5 separate regions of the Homo sapiens genome follow, and regions 2, 3, 4 and 5 are each reported to be linked to region 1. Evidence: microRNA targets listed by miRTarBase, many of them from high-throughput screens and not tested one by one. Region 1 holds a microRNA gene; each other region holds the end of a gene's coding sequence. Distances are between the middles of the regions.

Region 1 (3,691 bases):
TTTAAGATTGTGCATATTTCCTACCAGATCTGCACACTCCCTGTGGTGGAAAAGGTCAGCGTCGACCCTGTGAACACTGTTCACACTCCTTCGTTAAGTTATTTAGTTAGCCAAAACTTAGATATTTTCACAAAAGTCCCAGTAAATATTGAACTCTAATCCACTTATATTACTTAAAATTCTGCATGATCACAGTTGTATATTTTTTTACATACATAAACTATCTGATGTTATTCTTTTTTAATATAGGATTATTCATACAAATATTTCCATGTTCTGGTATTATCTAAAGATTTATAATTTTGAAAAAAAGAGTATTATTCAATAAACCATAATGGCCAATCCTATTCCAAATTTATTAAAAATGAGTTTAGATTCAAACCCACTCCCCTATATGCATTATTTGTCCCACTCAAAAGTTTATCCTGGAAGAGCAATATTATCCTTTATATTACCCTTTCCCAGAAGAGAAAAATTTTTAAATGTGCCTCATTTAATGACTTTAAAATACATACAAAACATTCTTTCAAGCATTTTTTTTGAAAATTGAGTAAAAAATGTTTAACAAAAAAGGTGTTAACTTTATGTTTTAAGGAAAAATATTGAAAATGTTATCCTGGAGTGCCTCACCTTAGGATGACTCTGCTGCCGTCCTAGCTTTCCCTTTGGAGTCTGAAGGACGGGTGTAGTCTCCTTAATGTTCTGGCTAGGTCATTGTCTCATTCTGGGAGCTGTCAAGCACTCTCCTGAGCCTTGCAGGGTCCAGTAGAATAATTCCATACGTGAACTCTCATAGGCAGCATTTGCAACAGGTGGTACAAGGCATTTAAGATTGGGTAGAACGATGTCGATATTCTGTGAGTAATTTTTATATTGTCTTCCTGTTTATATTCTACATTTTGTAAGTATTGTTTAGGACTTTATTTGCTAGTAATGGGACTTTTATTTAAGGCAAAAATCTGCATCGTGCAATGTATCTTGCAGAAGCAGAGATGAATTTTAGCAGATGACATATTGCCATAAGACAAGATTGTTTAAATGAGAGAAATTTAACTTTAATCATATTTGTGCTTTGTAGTTTTGCCCCATCATTCAGTTTTTTAATTAAAGAAACTATAATGTCAGGTTTGGTTAAAATATCATTGTCAGAAAATTTGAAACTCACTGGGATCTTAGCTTTAAGACTGAGACTTTCATTTTAAAAATAAAATAGCTGAATGAAAAATAGTTTGCTTTAGTTAAGAATACATACATAAAGTGTTTAATTGTTAAATGTGAAAAAAGTTTTGAGTAGCCTTGTGTTACATTTTTTAAGCTTGACCAGAATCTAAGAAAGATGAAAATTAATTTCAAATACTGAAGCTAAAACATGTTAATGAACTAAATAAAAGTTGACACATTTCTAATTTTATCCATCTTCCCACCTTTTACCCTTAAGTATTTAAAGTATTCATAGACAAAAGCCATCCCTTATCATTTCACTCCAGTTAACAGTGCATAAACTGAAGTTTGGATATTTTCTCAAAAGATGTGTCAAAATATACATTTCAAGTGCATTAACCACTTTCCTTATGCTTCTGAAGATAAATGAATTGCCTGAACATCTCAAGATCTTGAAAGTTTATAGTGATGGAAGCATAGGTTGCAAGTGAATGTGTTGGCCTTGTAAATTCTACTCCTAGAACTGTAGCATAAGCACCTTCTTAATTAAAGAATGACGCAGTCATAAATTTATGTATACCATGACGCGTGGAAGTATCAAAAATTTCAACTTTCCATATGTCAAAAGAGGAGAAACTATTATTTTAATATAGTTGAACACTAGTTGGAAATAGTAGTCTTTTCACTGTGTTTTGCCCAGACCCAGACTGGCAGAGTTAACCCAGACTGGCAGAGTTAACTCAAAGCACTTGATCCTTTGGAATACTCTTTTTCTCCCTTTTCTTTTCTCTGTCTTTCCACCCTATCCCCTTCCAAAAAAAAAAAAAAAAAAAAAAAATCATGACATAGAAAACCATACTTAGTTTATGGACAAGAATTCTTAGAATAATTTATTCTTTGTTAAGCATCAGACTGAAGTTATATTGTTTTGTTATATTGAGTTTTTATATCAATATAGGGTGCTGCAAAGCTGTGTACAATAAAGGTCAAGGGTAGTGATTTGCTGACAACAATTAGGAAAAGAGAACTATAGAATGCACAGGAACATTTTCAGAAATGGGTTTTATTATATTTCATAGGCACCACTCACTTTACTTTTGGTGGGTTTTAATACTTGAATCAAAATAAAATAATACATGAGTTAAGTATTAAACCAACAGATTAAAACCCCAGGCCCCCGAGCCCCTCATTTTGGTTGTAGCTCTTGGTGTAGATGCTATGGTGTGAGGGCTGCTTTCTTTCAATGGCTGGTTGTCATTCAGGCTGGGTTGTCATGTGACTGCCTGTCTGTGCCTGCTGTACAGGTGAGCGGATGTTCTGCACAGCAAGTGTAGACAGGCAGACACATGACAACTCTGTCCAGCCAGGCCCTTGGTTCCTTCAGGTTTCCTTTGCTCATAGACAGATACAATCAGCCTGTTTTCCAGATTTGGTGATTTTGGAGAGTAAGGGGAAAGGGAGAAAAATACACAATATAATTAAACATTAAAACATTATGGAACTAAAAACAAGTTAGACTTTTGACTTTATTCAGAAAGTACATTTATACATTTGTTCCAAATGTGCTAACATGGATAATTTGCGTAACAGAAAACTCACATTAAAATTTTAAGGAAAAAAAGAGATTAAACACAAGGTTTATTCTTAAGTCCAATTCATATTATTACTGGCCCACATGTAGTCAGAGTTCAGCGTAATTGAACCAGATGTTTTTCCTCTTTGCAAAAAACTGCATATTTTAATACTGAAGTTAAAGATAAAAACTATGTTTATGCATGTTTCTTTTAGTAGATAAGTACCATAACCTTGTCCATGAAAAAGAAAATTATCATTTACATGGAAACAGCAGCCCTTTTCAAAATAATTAATGAGCCTAATTTATTTGGCAACCCAAGTTGCTGACTTTGGTATTTGATGCTCTGATAATAGGATCCTACAAGGGAATATGTTTTTACCAATTATATGTGAAACAACAGGAACCTATTTAAATGTCTCATTTTCCTTTTAAATGCAAAGTTTATAACTGTGGATGTGAAATCAAATTAAAGGCAGTTGTGAGCTTAAGTTATCCACCTCTTAATTAACTATAGGGCCATGCTGTGAATCAAAAGGGTACAAACTGGAAGGCTGTTACTCACAGTGATGCTCAGAATGTGTTTTGGATATAGTTAGTGCAATATAGTTACAAAATAGTACTTAAGAAAAGGCAGAAAAGGCAAATTCATTTCATATCCAAAAAATTAAAACCAGATCCTTTGAAAATTTTTCTTATAATTTATATGAGCTAATAGTGTTAAATATGCAGATATAAAATTTAATTCTGGTGAGTTGAGAGTAATTCTATTTTAATATCAATTATCAATTCACATCTTTAGAAGTATTAAGCAAATTCCCCTCCCCTTTTAAAAACAAAAATATCCAAATAGTCAAAATTCCAGTAAGTAGGACTTCTTAAAAAACACAGCACCAAAAAAACACAGTATTGTCCAAGGATTGTATAATTAGACATTTTCTCAAAGAACTTTAAGAA
Region 2 (3,612 bases), 21 Mb from region 1:
GTGAAAAGCATTCTCAGAAGCAGTGAAAAGACCCAGGATTGTCATTCTAGCTCTGTCATTAACTTGATAGATAATTTTAGGAAAGTAGCTTAACCTCTCTGAGCCTCAGTTCCTTCATTTTTATTTATTCATTAATTTATTTATTCATTTATTTTTAATTTTTTAATTTTTAGAAATGGCGTCTCACTATATTACTCAGGCTGGACTCTAATTCCCGGGCTCAAGCTATCCTCCCTCCTCAGCCTCCTGAGTAGCTGGAATTATAGGCATCAGACATTGCGCCTGGCTTGCACAATAATTTTTTAAAATGTAAGGGGGCCCTAAGACCAAAAAGTGTGAAAACCACTCATCTATAGAATAGAAATAATGTCAGCCCTTTGTACTTTAGCTTGGTTGTTATGGAATCAAAGAAGACTCTGTACAGTCACTTTAAAAAGCTCAAGATGTAAGATTGATCATTATTACTGTCCTTAATTTTGGTGACTTTTTTTTTTAAGATGGAACAGATTAAACGTGCAAACCGCCTTTATACTAATGACTCCATCTTCCTGAAGAAAACCCTCTACATCCCCATCCTGACAGAGCCCAGAGACCTGTTCAATGGTTTGGACTCTGAGGAAGAGAAAGATGGAGAGGAAAAAGTACACCCAAGTAACAGTGAAGTTTGGCCACACTCAACTGAGAGGAAGAAACAAGAGACAGGAGCAGGACGTGCCAATGGTGAAGTCCTCCCCACACCTGGCCAGGAAACCCCCACGCCCATCCATGACCTCTCTGCCTCTGATTTCCTTAAGAAGCTTGATTCACAGATCAGCCTGTCCAAGAAGGCTGCTGCTCAGAAGCTGAAAAAAGGGGAAAATGGGTGAGTCTTGAATGGTTCCTTATAAGTTCCTCCCTAGACTCCTCCATCATTCCTGTCTTACCTAACCACAAACACAAGTAAGTAAGGACAGTGCCAACAGAGGCAAGGTGATACCTTTCCCCCATGTGGCCCCAAGATAATGAGCAGAGGTGATGGCTGCTGGCCTGGGTAGAGGCAGTGGAAAACTGGGTTCTGTGTTCTTATTGGAGTCAGACAGTTAACTATTTTTTTTTTTTTTTGAGACGGGGTCTTGCTCTGTTGCCCAGGCTGGAGTGCAGTGGCGCGATCTTGGCTCACTGCAAGCTCCGCCTCCCAGGTTCACGCCATTCTCCTGCCTCAGCCTCCCGAGTAGCTGGGACTACAGGCGCCCGCCACCACGCCCGGCTAATATTTTGTATTTTTAGTAGAGGCGGGGTTTCACCATGTTAGCCAGGATGATCTCAATCTCCTGACCTCGTGATCCGCCAGCCTCGGCCTCCCAAAGTGCTGGAATTACAGGCGTGAGCCACAGCGGCCAGCTGACAGTTAACTGTTTTTACTGCTCTGATCATCCATGAAGGAGCATTAGGGTTAGGATTTATCTAGAGGGTACTGAGACTGTCTTGAAGCAACCAGCTTATGTATTAGAAGATAGCTTTCCATGTACCTCTCACTTGGCCCATTGTCAGGTTCTTCCCTTGATCTGTCACTCTTTCCCCCCTTTCCTCAATTGCAGGGTACCTGGGGAGGATGCAGGTCTCCACCTGAGCTCCCCTTGGATGCAGCAACGAGCAGTCCTAGGTCCTGTGCCGCTGACCCGTACCTCTCGGACCCGGACACTACGGGACCAGGAGGATGAAATCTTCAAACTCTGATGTCCCCAGAACTGACTGAGAGAAGCAAGATGTTGAAAGAGAAACTTCAGGGGGAGAGGAGCCTGAGGTGAGGCTCAAGAACATGGCTTATGAGCCTGCCTCCCTCCACTCCAGCCATCCTCCCCAGCCTCCTTGTCTGCCAAAAATTCCTTGGCCTGGGGCAGTTTTATTGGCAAGATTAGGGAATGGGAACTGGACCTTTCCCAGTTCTTGGGCTGAATCTAGAGTTGAGTCCTTTAGACTCAAAAGGCTCTTTTTATATCCTTGTTGCCTTTCCTATCCTTTTTACCTTTCCCTGGCCTTAGAACAGGGAAGCAGAGACTCCCCCTCAGCTTCTTCCTCATCTCCAACTATGTGACATAATTTATTTGGTGCTAATATTGAAGTAATATTTATTTGCTATATTTTATTTCTTCCCACTCTTAGCTGAAAAATGGAATTTCTATAGCCCTGGGGTGAGGAGAACCCGGGAACAGTGAGCCAGTGACTGCTGGTTCTCCACTTTCCCCACCTTGTTAGCCAAACATGTTATTGAGGATGAGGCAATCGGTGATATAGCCCACCACAGAGAATGGATGACTGTTGGCCTTTTCTCCAATCTCAAAGTGACAGATTTGGGCTGATTCTTTTTTTTTTTTTTTTTGGTACCCCATTCCTGTTGAATGGGCTCAGTCTTGACAAACCAATTCCCTGTAACTTTTTCACAATTCTTGACTCTGAGAAAAAGCAGCACTGTAGGGACCTGAACTCTCCATTCTACCAGTTCACCCTTCTGACCTGTTCTGCTCAGCCTGTGGTGAGGGGAACAGATGGAAGAAGGCTTTCCTTGGGGTTTGAAGAGGAAGCCAGTTGTGGGAGTCTCTTTGTTACACCCCCTCCCCTCCAGACCCTCTCTCTCTATGCCTTCCTCCTCACTGCATATTTATTTGCGATTTGTAGCACTGATCTATGGTACAGTTGTTTTGTTTCTTAAACAGAAGTAGGTAAGGGAACCTCAGTAATAATGGAAATCTGCCTCAGTCTCCTGTTTGGAAATGATGAGAGGTGAGATAAGTAATGTTTATATACCTCCTTTCTTCTGTGATGATTATAAGGTATACGAAGCTGGACAGATTAAACATTGAGCCCTGTGCATATTTTAGTAGTTTTATTTCCCCTATGAGAATCTCCCCTGCCCTAGCCCCTTCTTCCTGCACTCTGGAACAGAGCCTCTGGCATCTGTCCAAGCTCTGTCTCTAAGGGCCACCTTCCCCTCTTCTGTCTTTAGTATCCCCAAAGGGGTTCTCTGGGCTGTGCCTCCTTTCCTTGGTTCACATGGGAGGGGGCTTCCCTGTTTCAGAAGTCCCTTATGGGAGAAATAGAGATCCAAGTTTCACTTCACCTTTTTCAGGCAGTTCTGTTTCCTGTCCTGGGGCTGGAGTGGGAGAGAGGCCTCACCCCTCAGCATTGCTCCTTCTCCACTAGCTGTTTGGGGGTGGGCTGGTCTCAGAGTCAAAAGCACTCTTGGGAAGGAATGAAGCCTGAAGATTGAAAAGTGTTAGTGCCAGGTGAGCAGGGTTAGGAAGCCCATTATCTGTGTTTTCTCAGTCAACCATTTTGTCAAGGTGGAATGTGCTAGGCTCAGGGCTCTCAGAGCTTCCCTTCGTCTAGCAGCTTCCTGAGTCCGTCACAGATCTTGCCAAGGTGCTGAGTGAAGTCAGGCCCATAGAGGGCCGTGAGCAGACCTGGGTCAGAGAAGTGATCAAACACGTGGCGGATGCGGCCATGTGACTTGGGCGTGAGGTGGTGTTCCACCAACTCTAGCAGCACATCCCGGCACTCGGTCAGCAGGCCAGCCAGAACAGCAGCCTCGAAGGTGAAGTCTACCTCACCAAAGCTAAGTGCCGTCATGGCACC
Region 3 (3,691 bases), not on the chromosome of region 1:
TTAGGAATTCAATGTGGAAAACATACCCTTTTTCTTCAACAGGCTTTTAATGTTGGGAAGACAGGTTAAAAAAAACAACAACAACAGGCTGGCTGTGCCGGCGCACGCCTGGAATCCCAGCACTGTGGGAGGCCAAGGCAGGCAGATCACCTGAGGTCAGGAGTTCGAGACCAGCCTGGCCAACATGGCGAAACCCCGTCTCTACTAAAAATACAAAAATTAGTCAGGCGCGGTGGTGTCGCTTGTAATCTCAGCTACTTGGGAGACTGAGGCAGGAGAATGGCTTGAACCTGTGAGCTGGGATCGTGCCACTGCACTCTAGCCGGGGCGACAGAGCGAGACTCTGTCTCAAAAAAAAAAAAAAAAAAAAACCCTCATCGCTGTTGTGAGGATGAATGGATGGGATCTGGAAGTCACTGTGGTAAACACAAATCTGGGAACCACAGAGTGGCGTTTTCACAGCCGCCCCCAGCCTCCACCTGCAGGGCCTGGTTTTCCTGGCTGCCGGAGGAAGCCCTTGAATATGCCACAGCTGGTGCTGAACCTGCTTCCAATTAGCAACAAGAATCTGAAGGTGGAGCTGCTTGGCGGGGATTATCATGCCACCCACTTCGCCTGCATCTGTGGCCTTTACGACCTCTCACTATCGATCCCTGACACTCAGAAGTGATTCTTCCCTAACGGTTTCCCGCAAAGCAGTCACTGTATAAACCTGAACCTTTGGAGTAAACCTTCCCCACGGGTCTTAAGGAAGCTACAGACCCACTCTAAAAGGGGAATTCTGGTGTCAAGAATCCAGTTGCAATGACTTAGGGCAACCCCCTCGCTGGACTTTGTTCCTCCTGCCCCAAAGGTAAGCAGCTGCTAAGAGAACCCACCTTTCCTCCGAGGCCATCATGATACATGGAGAGAAATCCTGCCACCTCCCACATTCAGGTCGGCCACATTCATCCCACCCACCCCGACCCCTAAGGGAGACTCTGGCAGCGTTCCCAGAGAAGCCTTGAGCCTGGGACCTGCTGGGTTTAAGAGGCTCCCACACTTGGCCCATTCTTCACAAGGAGACCCGTGCGTGATTCCTCCTGTTCTCCCAACCAGCTTTCTCAGGCTTCAGAGGACTCGGCTCCCCTGGAGGGAGGAAATGGGCAAGAATGTCCACAGCAAGGTACGCGATCTGAGGATTCACCCTCCGTCCAGGGCCAAGTCAAACCAGGAGAGACGGTGGCCAGGGCTGCAGGAGGGATCTGCCTCTGCCACGGTCATCCAAATGAGCTTCCTGGCTGCCGGAAGCCAAGAGGATGTGACAGATGCTACATCCTGGGGGTCTCAAAACTCCTGGGACTCAGCTCCCAGCTACCAGGTATCCTCCACTGCCCACCCCGATAGAGCACAGGACCACAAGCAAAAACAACTTTTGTGATCAAGGACAGCAGAGGCCCAGGGTGGATGAGGTCCAGAGATGCCTGCTTTATTTCCTACGGGGTGATCGCATTTCAGGCTGGTAACATCACATAACAAGTCTAATCGCCAACTAGTTGTACGCCTCTGAACTACAAGTCAACAATCCAATTCAGCAAGGAACAACAGTGTCAACAGCTCATTAGCGGGTGGGGACCGGATTTTCCAAATCAATGGTCTTGGCTGGCAGAGTGCTGAGTGGGGCCTGAGTGAATGAGGCTAAAACGCTTGGCCGAAGCCGTCCATCCCCAATCCTGAGAACAGAGTTGTCTGTTTCTCTTTCGGGGGTCAGGTCAGCCCAAGTAAGAGGCCAACAACCTACCTGGGCCGATACAAGGCGACACAAGGCCCACCCGTGGCTGACGCGCCCTCCACCCTCACTCCATCCCGGGGCACAGCTCCTTCCGCTGGTGCTTAGGAAAAGGCGAGGCTTCTGGTAATTTCTCATCTTTGTAGTTCTGCTTTGAAAAGAAAAGGGGGCCGGGCACGGCGGCTCACGCCTGTAATCCCAGCACTTTGGGAGGCCGAGGCGGGTGGATCACCTGAGGTCAGGAGTTCGAGACCAGCCTGGCCAACATGGTGAAACCCCATCTCTACTAAAAATACAAAAATTAGCCAGGTACGGTGGCGGGTGCCTGTAATCCCAGCTACTCGGGAGGCTGAGGCAGGAGAATCACTTGAACCTTGGGGGCGGAGGTTGAAGTGAGCCAAGATGGTGCCACTGCACTCCAGCCTGGGCGACAGAGCAAGACTCCATCTCAAAAAAAAGAAAATAAAAGGGAATGGCAGGGGTGATCGAACGTGGGTGTGGGCACCTCAGCAGAGATCAGGGGCCTTGGGCACAGAGCTGGGTGGAGCGAGAGGTCCGTGCTGGTGCAGAGGTGCTCCTCCTAGGACTCAGGGCTAAGTTTCTTGGGAAGATGTCCAAAGAGAAGGATTCGTTAACAGAATTTCAGGATCGTGGGAGCTGTTTGTATGATATGAACCATTACCTTAGCTACATTTTTCTTCTCACCCAAAAAACCTCTACAAGCTTCCTTTTGCATTTGGAGATCCCCTGCCTGAGAACACAAGAGTGGGCTGCTTTTCTCTCAGACCGAGGAAGACTGTGTTGCTTAGAAAAGGACGTCCTCACCCGCAGCTCTAAGCGGAGGCCCTTTCTCAGCTCAGCCTCCACGCAGGTGTCACCCGGCGGTTCCCCTCTGGCCGTCCGGGGCCGTGTGTGCCGACGTCAGAGTCAGAGCCCGAGCGGGACCCACCGGCCCTCCACGCTCACTCTGCCCAGGACACCCTGGCAGATCCTTCACCAAAAGCTAGTGACTTTGCGAAAGCCATGCAGCCCCGCTCTGGCCGGGCCCCCGGCCATCCCGTGCTCCCAAACAGAGTCTCCAAACACGGTGGACTCTGCCGCTGCTGATTCCACACCCCAGGGTGCTGGCTGAGGAGTTTACTGCAGAAACAAGGCACCACAGAGAGGCTGGACACTTGGGTGGTGGGATTCGGGGCACGCTGGGTAAGTCCAAGGGCGGAAGGAAGGAGGGGGAGGAGGAGAAGGCTGAGTTTTAAATAACGTCTCAGGAGGCCGGAGCCACGCTAGATGGGCTCCGGTTTGAGCTTCTCTGCTAGGAAGTCATTCACAAAGGCCTCCACGATGGCGGGGGTGATCTCCTCCACGTCCATCACGTACTTGGCCCGGGCTGACATGTCCAGGATGGTGAGCAAAGGGGCAGCCTCAGGCAGGTTGGTGTAATCTCGCAGGGAGTCAGTCATGTCATCCTGAAGCCGTCAGGAGGGAGAGAAAACCAAGAAGTTTTAAAGAAAGGAGGGGGAGAGTCCCCTGGGCCCAGTCTCCCCAGGTGTGGTAGCTCCCGCACCCTGAAGAGCCGGCGTTTCCCAAGCAGAGGGCTCCCAGCCTGGGAAGGAGGGAACCCTGCCCTGCCTTCCGGAGGAAGGGGCTGCTTTGTAAAATTCTCTCTTTGCATCCGCCCTGCAAACCACTAGGTAAGTCGTCTGTATTTAATTATTTATGTATTTATTAGCATCAACACCATTTTAATACGTCCTCAGCATTTTAGAAATGTCACATTCTTTTTTTTTTTTTTTTTTTTGAGATGGAGTCTCGCTCTGTCACCCAGGCTGGAGTGCAGTGGCACGATCTCGGCTCACTGCAAGCTCCACCTCCCGGGTTTAAGCAATTCTCCTGCCTCAGCCTCCTGAGTAGCTGGGACTACAG
Region 4 (3,664 bases), not on the chromosome of region 1:
CAGACCCCCTTTGCTCTTTGACCTCTCCAGGGACCCCTCCGAGGCACGGCCCCTGACCCCCGACTCCGAGCCCCTGTACCACGCCGTGATAGCAAGGGTAGGTGCCGCGGTGTCGGAGCATCGGCAGACCCTGAGTCCTGTGCCCCAGCAGTTTTCCATGAGCAACATCCTGTGGAAGCCGTGGCTGCAGCCGTGCTGCGGACATTTCCCGTTCTGTTCATGCCACGAGGATGGGGATGGCACCCCCTGAATGCCAGGACTGTGAGAGAGGATCCAGGAGAGCCTGACTGCGTTGCAAACAAAATTCTCCAAGCTTGGTTCTATCTTCAGCTTCCCTTTTTGCAAGGAACATGCCCTGGACTGAGAGTGGGTCCCCACTTTCTTTCTTTCTTTCTTTCTTTTTTGAGACAGAGTGTCGCTCTGTCCCTCAGGCTGGAATGCAATGGCACGATCTCTGCTCACTGCAACCTCCGCCTCCCGGGTTCAAGCGATTTTCCTGCCTCAGCCTCCTGAGTACCCAGGATTACAGGCACCAGGCACCTGCCACCATGCCTAGCTAATTTTTGTAGTTTTAGTAGAGACAGGGTTTCACCATGTTGCCCAGGCTGGTCTCGCACTCCTGACCTCAAGTCATCCACCTGCCTCAGCCTCCCAAAGTGCTGGGATTACAGGCACGAGCCACTGCGCCCATGTAGGGTTTCCCTTTCCTGATTTGTGAAATAAGACTGTCCCAGTAGGCACCCACTGATGCCTCCTCTTCCTCTTCTAAATCTCAGGGTTCGTCATTGTGCCAATGCCCGATGTTTTCACCCCTCCGTCTTAAAGCATTGTTGCAATTTCATCACCTAGATGACATAACAGCCTTACAAAAGGACAGGGAGGAGTGTCTGTTCCTACTCTCACATAGCGGAGGAAAGTTAGAGCCTCTCAGTCTCTGTTTATGAGGACTCATTAATCTCAAATAATTGATGCATTTTTCATACATTAGGGTCTCTGTCCATGTGTCTTCCTGATATTGTTATAGAAATGGCTTCAGGCTGCTGGTAACAGATGCTGCGGAAAAAGAATGCCTTAAACAAAGCCAGGCACGGTGACTCACACCTGTAATCCCAGCACTTTGGGAGGCTAAGGTGGGAGGATCACTTGAGCCTAGGAGTTAGACACCTACCCAGCCTGAGCAACACAGTGAGACCTCATCTCTACAAAAAACAAATAATTAGCTAGATGTCGTGGCGCACAGCTGTAGTCTCAGCTACTTAGGAGGCTGAGGCGGGAGGATTATTTGAGCCTGGGAGGTCAAAACTGCAATGAGCTAAGATTGCACTACTGCACTCCGGGCTGGGAGACAGAGTAAGACCCTGCCTTAAAAAAAAAAAAAAAAAAATGCCTTAAAGAAAATAATAAGAGAAGGGTGTGTTCTCTTCCAAGTAATGAGCCGATCAAGGGGAAGCAACCCAAGGCTAGCAGGCTCTTTTCAATTCCCAGCTCTGCCACTCTTAGCATGGCAGAGAGTTGGCCTCATTATGCCAGTATGGCTGCCACAGTGTCAGACATCACATTCCAGGCAGTGGAAAGGAGAAAGAACCAAAGGGCATCCCTTTCTCTTGAAGCAGTCCCTGTGAGGGGGGATTATCTGGAAGCCCCAACCCAATTTCTGCTTCCAACCATTATCCATAGAAACAACTGGAAGTTGAGAAGTGCAGTCTTTTAGGTGGGCACCTGGCTGCCCTGTATGAAACCAGAATTAGGTTGGTCAGCAGGAAAACAAGAAAACACTTACTGTGTTGACTGAGGTTTTTGACGCATCGCTTTATTGTCAAATTAAACAACTCTATCTCATTCTGCACTGAAACACGTACTACCATTGCCTATAATTGGAAAATGATCCTCAGAGGCACAGAAGATGCCCTGATGGAAAGTTTGCCCCTTGGGCAAAGAGACAGCCATGGGAACCTTCAGACATAGAGAGAGAAGGTGGCTTTTCTCCCTACATTCCTCAAATAGCTAAGATTTGGCCAGTGTGTTTTCTAAGTCAATTCTAGTGTGTTTCATCCTCACCTCTTCCCTCTGTGGCTTTGATGATGGAAGTGTAGTCCTAACCTACTGCACAGCTGGGACCCCCTGCCCCTAGATCCCAATACTGGGGATGGGAGGACCTTGCACTATTCCCCTCAGTCCATCTATCGAGGTCTTTGCAGGAAGCATACTGGGAATTGAAACGAGAGCCTAAATGACATCTAAGAAAGGCAGTGTTCAATACCAGGTATTAGGTGAGGATGGGATTCTAAGGACATCAGTGGGAGGCAGGGAGCCACCTTCAGACCTCAGCATGGAAGCTTCCAAGATCCAGAGGAAGAGGCAACAGCACTGAGAGTCATAGGTAGAAGAATCATCACAGCCCTGCTAACCAGGCAGCTGATGCCCCTCTCCCCTGGCTCCCTGTGTCCAAATCCTACAGGGGCATCTGTTGGCTGAACTCAACCTGAAGCCAAAGAGAAGATGAGTGGAGAGAGGCAACATTTATAGAGCTCAGGTTTCTAGGGCTGGAGAGGGATCTGGAGGGACACACAGGAGACACCTGGCATAACCAAAAAATGATTAAAAAAAAAAAAAAAAAGAAACATCTATGGAGCATGGGACACGGGGAGTGGAGGCAGCTAAAAGCCATCTCATCTTTCACCGTATTCAACAAGCCCATTATAACAAGTCTTTCACGCTCAACCATTCAAACAATCCCAACAATCCCAGCCTAAGAATTTCCTGGCATTTGATGAAAATGGCTGTGGGTTTTGCTATCTTTAAGCTCCCTGGGAAGCAGGATATAAGCCCAGGGCTGGCAGGCTCTTTCTAGCTACCTGCTCTTGCACATAGAGTTTGCCTCATGGTTGCAAGAAGGCTGCCATAGCTCCAGATGGCACATAGACATTCCAGGCAGCAGGAAAAAGGAAGGAGCACTTAACCGAAGGAGGTCAGGGAGTTGGTTAGTCTCCACCTGAAGAAGAGAGCCATGAACCAGCTTCAGTTGACTAACGGGCTCCTGTGAGTGCATCTTTGGACTTTTCTGGAGGTTGAAATCTAGATGTGGTATGTGTCTTAAAGCAGCCACCAACTCCTCCCATTACCTTCCAAGTGAGCCCAACTACACGATGGAGCCTCTTCCCTGCCCTTGGATCTGGGCTGAGCCTCTGACTTGCGTTGACCAACAGAATGCAGTGAAAGTGATGCCGATACTACCCTCCCTGCCCTAGACTTGGGATACCTGGCAGCTATATTCTTCCATTCCTCAGGACTTGCAAAAACGGGTCTCAGCATGCCTTCCCAGAGCCATGAGGTGTTTCTTTGCCCATTCATTGATCTGAGAAGTGAGTGTAAGGAGTTTAAATCAACCTCTGTTCTGTGCTAGTTAAGGTAATAAAGTTGCTGCAGTCCAGGGGGTAGGTACCTGTGGACGGCTCTGCGAATAGGACAGTTGCATTTCTTGGGAATCAAGTGCATCCCTAGGCTGGCAGTGCAGCAGAAATACTGAATAAAATGTGACAAATCTCCCTGGATGGTGTCATTTGTTTGTTTTTATTTCCCATCCTCAATCCTACTTTTCCACCTCCACCCCTTCACCCCCCAGCTTTGAAGGAACTCACCTGGCATTGCTATTCACTATTCATGG
Region 5 (3,691 bases), not on the chromosome of region 1:
TGCTGTGGCTTTACTGATTAGTTTTCAGCTCCAATTAACTTCTGCTTTGTAGATGAGAACTTTGGGAGTTCCCAGAGAATTATATTCATGACCTGAGAACATCCAATCCAGACCAAAGCCTGGCTTCCTTGAACGCTCACCAAAATCACAGAACACAAGGCCAAATCTGATAGTAAATCCTTTTAAACACCCTCTGATACAAGCCACAGCCCTTTCTTGATCATGTGTTCAAACTTCAACTCAACACAGCAAATTTTCTTTGACTACCAGTGTGATCCTGGTGGTTTCTGGGTAGAGGGCCTTGACAAAACCATTATTTCCGCTTTTTAATTGTTATTAACCACAAATAAGAAATCATTTTAGGCCGGGTGTGGTGGCTCATGCCTGTAATCCCAACACTTTGGGAGGCCAAGGTGGGCAGATCACCTGAGGTCAGGAGTTCAAGACCAGCCTGGCCAACATGGTGAAACCCCATCTCTACCAAAAATAAAAAAATTAGCTGGGTGTGGTGGTGCATGCCTGTAATCCCAACTACTCGGGAGGCTGAGGCAGGAGAATCAACTGAACCTGGGAGATGAAGGTTGCAGTGAGCTAAGGTCGTGCCACTGCACTCCAGCCTGGGTGACAGAGCGAGACTCTGTCTCAAAAAAAAAAAATCATTTTAATGGCAAATGTTAAGTATACAGCAATTAAAAATAACATTTATATGAAAAAATACCTGTATTTGTATATACTTGGTAATACTGATTCAAAATGTAACATGCTTAAATTATCAAAATTACAAAGTTGATTTGAAATCTGTAATTCTCTCGGTAAACAAAAAATAACATTTCTTAGTGTTATGGGTTGAATTGGGTCTCCTAAAATTTTTACGTTGAAATCTTAATTCGCGGTGCCTCAGTATGCGAAAAGAGAGCTGTTGCCAATGTAATTAGTTAAGGTAAAATCATACTGAAGTAGAGTGGGGCCTAACCCAATGAGTGGTGTGTATGTATAAAAATATTGTCACATGGAGAGACACACACACAGGGAGAATGCCATGTGAAAATTAGAGTTATGCTGCCACAAGCTAAGGAACTACCAGAAGCTAGGTGAGTTCTGAAACAGATCCTTCCCTAGCATCTTCAGAAAAAGCATGGTCCTGCCAATGCCTTGTTTCTGGATTTCTGGGTCCAGAACTGAGAAACAAAAAGTTTGTTTTCCTATGTCACCCAGTTTTTGTACTTTGTTATGGCAGCCCTGGGAAATTAATATAGTCTCTAAACAACTAATTTGAAAGCACAGTAAATAGGATTTTTTTTTCTTTTCTTGCTTGTGTGATGGAGTCTTTCCCCGTCTCCCAGGCTGGAGTGCAGTGGTGTGATCTTGGCTCACTGCAACCTCCGCCTCCTAGGTTCAAGCACTTCTCCTGTCTCAGCCTCCCAAGTAGCTGGGGTTACAGGTACTCACCACCATGCCTGGCTAATTTTTGTGTTTTTAGTAGAGACAGGGTTTCACCATGTTAACCAGGCTGGTCTCAAACTCCTGACCTCAAGCCTCCCAAAGTGCAGGGATTACAGGCATGAGCTACTGTGCCCAGCTAAACAGGATATTTCTAAGAAATATCTACAGAAGGTTTTCCTTGAAACAAAATCCACATTATTTTTAATGATACATAATCAAACCTAATAATTTAACCTATATCAAGAAACTGCATTTAGTTCTGAGTAACAGAAATCTCCCTAAATCTAATATATGAGGAAGGTATTTGTTCTCACATAGGACTCGGCAGGCACACTTAAAAATGCAATAGGGTACAAAGTCCCATGTGTTGTTTTTCTTCTTTGACTGCAACACTGTGGCTTTCGTGGTGGAATCAGGATCACAGAGCCACTGGAAGTATTAAGATAACAAGGTGTTCACTATATAAATTAGACCCCATGCAAATATGTTAAGATCTACAGAACGGGAGAATCAGAAGCTCAGAGACTGCCAAACAAGACAGTCTGAATCAGTGGTCAAGAGGTCATGCAGGGTTTTGAGAAAAATCCAGACTCTAGGTGACTGACCACACAGGAATATCCCTAATATCAAGTTAATGGAGATGTCTGAGGAAGACTACACCTCTGACACAGTGGAAATCAAGCACTTAAGTGTTTCTTTTGATGGTACTCTTGATTGGCAGGAATAAGAATCTGGAAAATAAGCTGAAGGTTGATGTTCACAAAGCCCCTATGCATCTGTCCATCTCCATTTAATGTGACCCCAAAAGCTCAGCGATGACTTACTTCTTCTTCATTCTAAATTTCATTCAAGTTATTGCTATTGGTAAATTTGGACATGGAACCATAAAGGAAATGCATTCCAGCAAATGAAGTTCCTAACACTACCCACACTGACAACAATGCAGAAGAACTATCTGCAACTCTGGATTTCTCCGTCACATCACAAGTCAAAGCCTACTGTCCAATTCACAATCACAAGCAAAGACAAACAGCAATGGGCAAACATTAAAAATTACAATTCATTTGAGGCTATACTCCTTAAACAACTTTGCATAATTACAAAATTCTGCCAACTACTTCTTAAAAAATGGAATAAGGCTCCTCTGGCCAAACAATAAAAATACTCCCAGTAAAAAAGGTGGAAAATATAATAGATACGTAATATCCAATACCTGTCACACTAAGTCAGTTACAATTTAAGAAATTAAATAAAACTTGAACCTACTTGCATATTAAAAATACACTTCAAATCATCCATGAGTCCAAAACACTCTAAGATGAAAGTTTTATTTACTGAATCGTAAGAAACTACCTGTTCAAATTCATGTAGGATAGCTGAGAGTATTTGGAGAATTATTTTTCAACTAAATGTTTATTTGCAAATGAACTACAGACACACTCCTTGAGTGTCCACTTTCAGGATAAGGAACTCATAAAGGCAACACCATATTTACAACTTTGATCAGATCTCTCTCCTGGTGTGACTTTTCTGAAGCACTGCACATGAATTCATTTGCAGGAGGATGTCCTACATTACACTTATACTGTTTTTCTGTAGTGTGTATTCTCACATGTCGCCTTAAGGATGAGGAACAATTGAATGCTTTCCCACAATGCTTACATTGATAAGGTTTCTCTCCAGTGTGCAGTCTCATATGTATTGGTAAAGATGATGGCCATTTGAAGACCTTCCCACATTCCTTACATTCATAGGGCTTCTCTACAGTGTGCGTTCTCACATGTTGTTGCAAAAGTTCAGGCCAACTGAAAGCTTTCCCACACTGCTTGCATTTATAGAGTTTCTCTGCGGTATGTCTTCTCATATGTTTTTGTAAGGATATGTGGCAATAGAAAGCTTTCCCACATAGCTTGCATTCATAGGATTTGTCTTCAGGGTGCATTCTCACATGTTCTCGAAAGCAAGCAGACAAGCTGAAGGCTTTCCCACACTGCTTACATTCATAGGGTTTCTCTCTAGTATGTGTTCTCATATGTTTTCGTAAAGATATGGGCCAATTGAAAGTTTTCCCACATTGCTTGCACTCATAGGGTTTCTCTCCAGTGTGCACCCTCATGTGTCCTCGAAAGGAGGAGGGGTGACTGAATGCTTTCCCGCACTGGTTGCATTCATAGGGTTTCTCTCCACCATGAGTCCTTTCATGTCTTCGAAAGGACTGGGGATAAATGAAGGTCTTCCCACACTGTTT

Evidence for each region. Region 1 holds the annotated microRNA hsa-miR-3120-5p (CCUGUCUGUGCCUGCUGUACA, at 2,444-2,464, shown strand). A microRNA usually pairs through its seed, bases 2 to 8, with sites in the 3' UTR of a target mRNA and lowers its output. Matches are read on the target gene's strand: a 7mer-m8 pairs with bases 2 to 8, a 7mer-A1 pairs with bases 2 to 7 and ends in A, and an 8mer does both.
Region 2: miRTarBase lists TNFAIP8L2 as a target of hsa-miR-3120-5p. Seed matches in the 3' UTR shown: 7mer-A1 at 2,973-2,979 and 7mer-A1 at 2,945-2,951.
Region 3: the mRNA of NXN is a reported target of hsa-miR-3120-5p. The part of its 3' UTR that is shown has no 7-base or 8-base seed match.
Region 4: miRTarBase lists ARSD as a target of hsa-miR-3120-5p. Seed matches in the 3' UTR shown: 7mer-A1 at 406-412 and 7mer-A1 at 1,344-1,350.
Region 5: miRTarBase lists ZNF555 as a target of hsa-miR-3120-5p. Seed matches in the 3' UTR shown: 7mer-A1 at 637-643.

The regions. Positions count from the first base shown.
Region 1 is chr1:172,136,377-172,140,067 of GRCh38, forward strand. MIR3120 (microRNA 3120) reads left to right here and starts at 2,432; the gene lies at 2,432-2,512. All of the region lies in intron 14 of DNM3 (dynamin 3), which reads left to right. It overlaps DNM3OS (DNM3 opposite strand/antisense RNA), which reads right to left. Exons shown (of 4, transcript NR_103486.1): 4 at 503-3,691. It overlaps MIR214 (microRNA 214), which reads right to left and starts at 2,531; the gene lies at 2,422-2,531.
Region 2 is chr1:151,158,986-151,162,597 of GRCh38, reverse strand. It overlaps TNFAIP8L2 (TNF alpha induced protein 8 like 2), which reads right to left. Exons shown (of 2, transcript NM_024575.5): 2 at 2,849-3,612. The coding sequence ends at 3,346. The region is part of intron 1 of TNFAIP8L2-SCNM1 (TNFAIP8L2-SCNM1 readthrough); the gene reads right to left. LYSMD1 (LysM domain containing 1) reads left to right here. Exons shown (of 3, transcript NM_212551.5): 2 at 498-862; 3 at 1,578-2,850. The coding sequence ends at 1,716. Among named protein-coding and RNA genes, the nearest start is that of TNFAIP8L2-SCNM1, 4.1 kb to the right of the region's middle.
Region 3 is chr17:797,898-801,588 of GRCh38, forward strand. It overlaps NXN (nucleoredoxin), which reads right to left. Exons shown (of 8, transcript NM_022463.5): 8 at 1,413-3,234. The coding sequence ends at 3,052. Among named protein-coding and RNA genes, the nearest start is that of MRM3, 17 kb to the left of the region's middle.
Region 4 is chrX:2,903,857-2,907,520 of GRCh38, reverse strand. It overlaps ARSD (arylsulfatase D), which reads left to right. Exons shown (of 10, transcript NM_001669.4): 10 at 1-3,549. The coding sequence ends at 250. It overlaps ARSD-AS1 (ARSD antisense RNA 1), which reads right to left and starts at 2,617. Exons shown (of 2, transcript NR_144459.1): 1 at 2,316-2,617; 2 at 1,399-1,953.
Region 5 is chr19:2,853,176-2,856,866 of GRCh38, reverse strand. It overlaps ZNF555 (zinc finger protein 555), which reads right to left. Exons shown (of 4, transcript NM_152791.5): 4 at 1-3,691. The coding sequence ends at 2,915. Among named protein-coding and RNA genes, the nearest start is that of ZNF556, 12 kb to the left of the region's middle.